Regions from separate parts of the Homo sapiens genome. Here region 1 is linked to region 2. Evidence: fine-mapped expression QTL. A gene starts in region 2. The other region holds a variant in brackets. All regions are shown on one strand. Distances are between the middles of the regions.

Region 1 (2,930 bases), 35 kb after region 2:
GTTGACAGTTTCATCAGTGTATAGAAGGAAAGAGATGAAATCACCAAAAGAAAGACTGACAATAACAAAGAGAGGTCTCAGGACTAAGCCTCCTGAAGAATGGGATTCCCTAGATGGATAGGATGGTCCCACGGAGATTGTCAAGAGTCACGAAGTACGAGTGGAAAACAATTTCTACTGTAGCAACATGGAGTCAGAACAAGATGGAAATCGAAGATTGGCTGTTGGACGTGGTAAAGTGAAAGTCCTGTGAACACTGAAAAGAAGCAGGTTTGATGGAGCACTGGGGTGTTTGATTGGAGTGTGTTCAAGAAAGAATGTGGGGGAAGAGTGTGGGTGGCTTTAGCAAGAAGATTTGTTGTTGAGGGGAGCAGAGACAGCAGGCAGCAATGGAAGAAATAGAAGGCCTGTTTTGAATTTAAGATGAGATGATGTCTGTACGTAGATGTGAGGCAGAAACTGATGATGCAGTTATCATCAGAAAAGAATGAATTGCTAGAGCAAAATCTTTGAGTAGGCAAGAGGTTATGGCAAAGAGTATAGAGATCAGTAGATTTATGGTGGTCAGATAAGGCAGATCAAAGTTTTCATTATATTGCTTTATTTCTTAATGATGTAAAAAGGCAGTTCTTTGGAAAAACATGACAAAGGGAAAAGACTAAATGCATATGGAGAAAGAGGAAGTTTTGAAATCATGTACTCAAAAAGGGGAAAAGCAAACTTACTAAAGAAATGTAAAGGGATTGCTGGACAGTACTGAGGACTTAGTTGATACGTGTGATTAAAAAATAAAGATGAGTCCATTCATTATGCTTGCATTTAAAAAAATACATTCACATTCAGTTGATCCAGTATGGGGGTAAAGTAGACTGAGGTATACAATTATTTGAGTTACAGTTTTGCCAGGCTAGTATGCACACAAGAGAGAAGCAAGATAACGGAAAGTATTTGTAAGGAAATGGTTGTACTGAGTATATTGATGATGAAAAACCTAAGTTGGGAGGAGAGGAAATGAGGATTAAAAATGGAATATGAACATGGAAAAATTCACTTGAATGTGGTAGGTAGATTCTCAAGATGGTCTCCTTGAGTTACTCTGGTGCTATGGTTGTGTTAAATGACAAAAAAGATTTTGAAGATGTAATTAAGGTTGGTGAGCCATTGACTTTTAAGATAGAAAGATTGTCCAGGTGGGCTTAAGTTAACTTCATGAGTCCTTTAAAAGCAGAGTTTTCTCTGAGGATGTAGAAGTTTGAGAGATTCCAAGGACGAGAAGGATTTCATGCACCATAATAGGCTTGGAAAAACATGTTATGAGGAATGTGCACAGCCTCCAGGAGCTGAGATTGGCCGCTATCTAACAGTCAGGAGGAA[AG/G]GAGGACCTTAGGCCTACACCAACTAGGAGCTGAGTTCTTCCAAAAATCTACATGAGTTTGGGAATGTATTGTTCCCTGAGTCTCCTGAGAGAGCTCATCCTGACTCGCACATTGATTTCTGCCTTGTGAGATGGTAAACAGAGAAGAGAGTTGAGCCTGCCTGGATTTCTGATCTATGGTCTAGGAACTCAATGATAGGTGTAGTTTTAAGACATTATGTTTGTGATATCTTGTTACACAGCAATAGAAAACTAACACGATGGCCAAAAGAGTGTAGATTTTACTGAATTTGAAGGTAAGAAAAAAGGAGGAAGTATTCAAATAATCAAATGCATAAAACTGTAATTTTGGAAGTGAGACTGCTATTGGTGTTACAACAACCTTACAGTGTGAAGAAAAAAGAGATGTTGAGGCAAGTTGTAGGAAAAACTATTTAGAAGACAGAAGATAAGAAGGACCTTGGGTGCCAAGAGCAGAGAGAATGTGGAATTAGACATTTGGCCTTTCTTCCCAGTGACACCCAACGCCATCTACCCCCCAACCCCACTATACCTGCATTTCTGGTCCTTACATATTGTGGCCCTAGAAAGCCTTCCTTGTCTTCTCCAGGACAAAATGTGTAGTTTTGTTCCTCCCAAAATTTGATTTCAGAAAAACTAACCAAGTATGACAGCTTGTTTGCTTACCTGTTTTATAAAGCACCTTATAAGTGGGCATTGTATGCTGTTCACCACTCAATATCCAGCACTTGATCAGGATTTCCCATGGGATTGGTTCTCCTTTCTAAATAGAATCCAATGTTTATTAAAATAAAAGCATATTAATGAAAATTCTGAATGTCTAATATTACATATGTATGTGTACATGCATATTCCTTCCTACTTAAATTTAACTTATTTGCATTAGCTGAATGATTTCCCTTACTTCAACAAAGCCTCATTTTGTCAATTTTGTCAGAGCTCCTTGGGGCTCTATTACAAACTAAGATGTACTTTCTGTGTCTGTATTCTGTGTGTTGTCAGAACTAGCACATCCCTAATGTCACATAACTACTTACGTCCTCCTAATTTGGATATACACTGGTCTGGCCAGAGTGGCTTATTCACCACCTTGGCAAAATCAAACAGATTACACGCACTTTGACAAAAGAAATGGAGGCATATTTTAAATATTTGTTTTTCAAAGCACACCAAGCATATATTTTTATGGCTTAAAAATATTAAATCAATTAATCACAGAAATTAAAATGATAATACAAACAAAGCACATAAACTAGAGACACATTCAAGTTTCAATATATTACCATTACAACTCTCACGGCCATTTCAGCAACAATTGGATGTAGTGTCTAGAAACAGACTACATAAAAAAATGAAAGCAATTCATTTTTGTCATGGGGTGAACTTATAATTCAAGTTCCTATCTGTAATTTCCTGTGCTGGTAGTACATTGATCTCAACAGGATTATTGTCTGTGAAATAACAGGGTATAAAATAGAATTTCCCACTGGGACAACGAAATCCTATTGAATAACCCTGAAAGGTGACATCTACC
Region 2 (2,930 bases):
CCGAGGCAGGGTAGGTTCAAAGACTCCAGCACAGCCACGTGATGGAAGAAGATTTATGAACAGAAAAAGGACTTACAGAAAATGGACGAGAGGTGCAGAAACACCTAGATTGCTTACAGCTCTGCGTTTGCCTTATTTAAACATGGTTTGAACAGCCGGCCGCCTGTGATTGGCTGAAACTCCATGATTGGCACAAGAGTAGGTAGGTCACAGTCTGTTTACACGTCCAGTGAGGTTACAGTTCATTACCTACAGAGAAACGTTTAGACTGAACTTAAAATATGTAAGGAGGCAGCTCTAGGCTAAACTTGATTTAGCAATATAATCTACTAATTCTTTTTGTAATAAAATTATTTAATTTTCAGGTGATAAGATGAAGTATCAGTCATTGAGATGTTTCATACCCAGTAGAATCTGGGGTGGATATTTGCTTTTGTGAATGGCCTTCACATTAGGAAGTGCATTTAGGAAAATCGGGTATTGCATTTTCATGGTTATTTGAGCTCAAAGATTTTATTCCTTTATTGGCCAGATCATTTGGTACAAAGATCAACTAGAAAGAAAGTTTCATGTATTGAGTTTTTGGGAAGGGCTGTTTTAAATACTGTTAAGACGACTGATTTATCTTTCTTTACTTAGTAGGGGGAGGTAGGAGGGGCATACCAGAATTCAGAAGTGCGACCACCATAACCACTTCACTTTTCAATTTATTTTTCAGTTCTAGGATATATAAGCAGACAAGGAGGGTCTCTAGGAACCATAGGAGTTTAATCCACGTGAGCCATCAGCCTGATTTACAGCTTCCTGCCCTGCAGCCTGTTCTTCCCTAAACCCTGGGTGGACTATAGTAACCTAGTTGGTTGAAACCAGCTCCTGACAGACCCTGGCAACTTAGAGATGAACCCTGGTGAATCTTCCTCATGACTGTAACGTCTCCATCCTGGAGGAACTGTAGTTCCGTTATCATAACATGTAACCCATGTGTTGCCATGATGACACTGTGTCTGCACCGCTGGGACCCCTCATCTACATGCGATAATGCACCCTCTCCCCTCTCCATCACCCCATAAAACCCTCCTGCCACTTTCCCTCAGGGAGACACTGCTTTGGAGAATACACCCAGTGCTCCCCTTACTTGAGCCAAGTAATAAAACTCCTATTGATCAAAATCTGCATTCTCGTGGAGAGTCGTTTGTTGCTTGACAGGTGAATGAACGCTGTTTGTTTTTTTCGGATAACAAATATGAGGTATTAAACAAACAAACAAAAAACCCCAGACTTGAAGCTTTCCCATAATAACAACAAAGAGTTTGAGTAAGAATTCCACAGCTTGCCTTCATCTGTGGCAGACTTGCATGAATCATTTTCAAATAAAGATAATAACTCAGTTGGTCTTGTAGTCCAAACAAAATGTGCTACTTCAGGAACATTCACTTCCTATGTGGACTTTGCTGCTGAGTCAGTGTGAGACCTTGAACAAGTCTCTGTTTGTTTCGTACCATTCAGATTTCCTCGTCTGTAAACATTAAGTATCTACATTCACTAAAAGTAGTTCTGAATGAATGTTATTTAATGGTGCCAATGATGTTGGAGGATACCTGTGGTAAGTGGTTTAATTTATTTTTGCAAGTTGGTATAATATCCATACTATATTGACCTTAAAATAGATGGACAATGTGGATATGTGGATGTTTTTGTTATTGAGAAGGGGGTTGACTGAGAGTAAAGGACAGTTTGATTTGTTTTTCTACATTAGTCCTATTCATCTGGCAAATGTGAAATCTCCATTTCGTCATTCATGTTCCTAAGGTGGGTACTAGATATAGTTACATTTTCTTGCCAAAGTAAAACTTGCATCATATACTTAGGAACGTGTGGAGCACTTCTCAGAGCTGTGCTTAATCTCAGGTGCCCAGAAATGTTGAAACTTGTTTACAGAACTTTGGACTCATCTCTGATTTATTAACTCAAGTTATTCCCTGGACCTATAATTAACATCTCACCAGCCTGATATTTTCCTCAACCACTTAACACAAAAGAATGATTATGGAGCTTCACATGCAACATTATCCCTTAAAATTGACTCTAAACAAGGATTTAAAATAAGGTTGTTTCCATGTGCACAGGTGATCAAATCATTGTGTGATAAAACGATAGATTTTTTTATGATGTGTTTTCATATCTCTGTGACCTTTTTTGTTAGAGAGGTGATACCATTGAGTCCCGGGAGACTTAGGCTAACTCTTAATATACAAAAGGATAAATACTTTCTTCTTCAAATAATTCCAAGCTCGTTTTACTCCTTTAAAATAATTTTTAGATATACTTGTCAAATTCTGTGAAATATTCATGTATGAATTTTGATTGAAACTTCATTAATGATGTATTTATCCATTTCTTTTTCTTTTTAACTTAAAATTTATATTTGTTTATATAAAATTTCTGAACATATTATTTTTAAAAACTAGTTATAACTACTTTAGAATTTTTGGTAGCTATTATGGGAAGTTTCTTTGTATTATTACTTTATTATTGTTACATTATATAATTGTTTTTATTGGAAAATAATGATATTTATTTGTATATTGATCTGGCACCATAAAGCTTTCTGACTTTTTGTTTTAGTTGCTTATTTACATATTATCTTAAAAGTTCTATGAGTATGGTCATATGAGCCAACAATAATGATTTTACTAATACCAATTCCTGTATTAGTTTCCTAGGCTGTTGTAACAAAGTGCCTTGACTGAGTGGTTTTGAAACAAAGAGAGCTTATTCCTTCATGGTTCTGGAAGTCTGAAGTCTGAAATCCAGGTGAAAGTAGGGCCGCACCCTCTCCAAAGCTCCAGGGAAGAATCCTTCCTCTCCTTTAGTTTTCTCAGTGGCCCACAGTACTTGGCGCCCTGTGGTTTTGCGGCAGCAGGTCCACC

Direction of the effects. Positions count from the first base shown, and alleles are read on the strand shown. Sizes are in standard deviations (SD) of each study's normalised expression.
For the expression in subcutaneous fat of the gene that starts at base 1,582 in region 2, AG is the high allele of the variant in region 1 and G is the other (small effect, 0.17 SD a copy in GTEx).

Evidence for each region. PIP is the estimated chance that this variant, and not a neighbour inherited with it, causes the effect. A credible set is the group of variants that fine-mapping cannot tell apart.
Region 1: its variant is the best candidate, but not a certain one, in a credible set for the expression of MANCR in subcutaneous fat (GTEx, PIP 0.85).

Annotation. Positions count from the first base shown.
Region 1 is chr10:4,641,430-4,644,359 of GRCh38, reverse strand. No RefSeq gene overlaps it. Among named protein-coding and RNA genes, the nearest start is that of LINC00705, 13 kb to the left of the region's middle. The variant AG/G (reference allele first, on the strand shown) is at 1,375.
Region 2 is chr10:4,676,722-4,679,651 of GRCh38, reverse strand. It overlaps MANCR (mitotically associated long non coding RNA), which reads left to right and starts at 1,582. Exons shown (of 4, transcript NR_024475.1): 1 at 1,582-1,603. LOC105376373 (a long non-coding RNA gene) reads right to left here. Exons shown (of 4, transcript XR_001747338.2): 2 at 2,833-2,930; 3 at 77-249.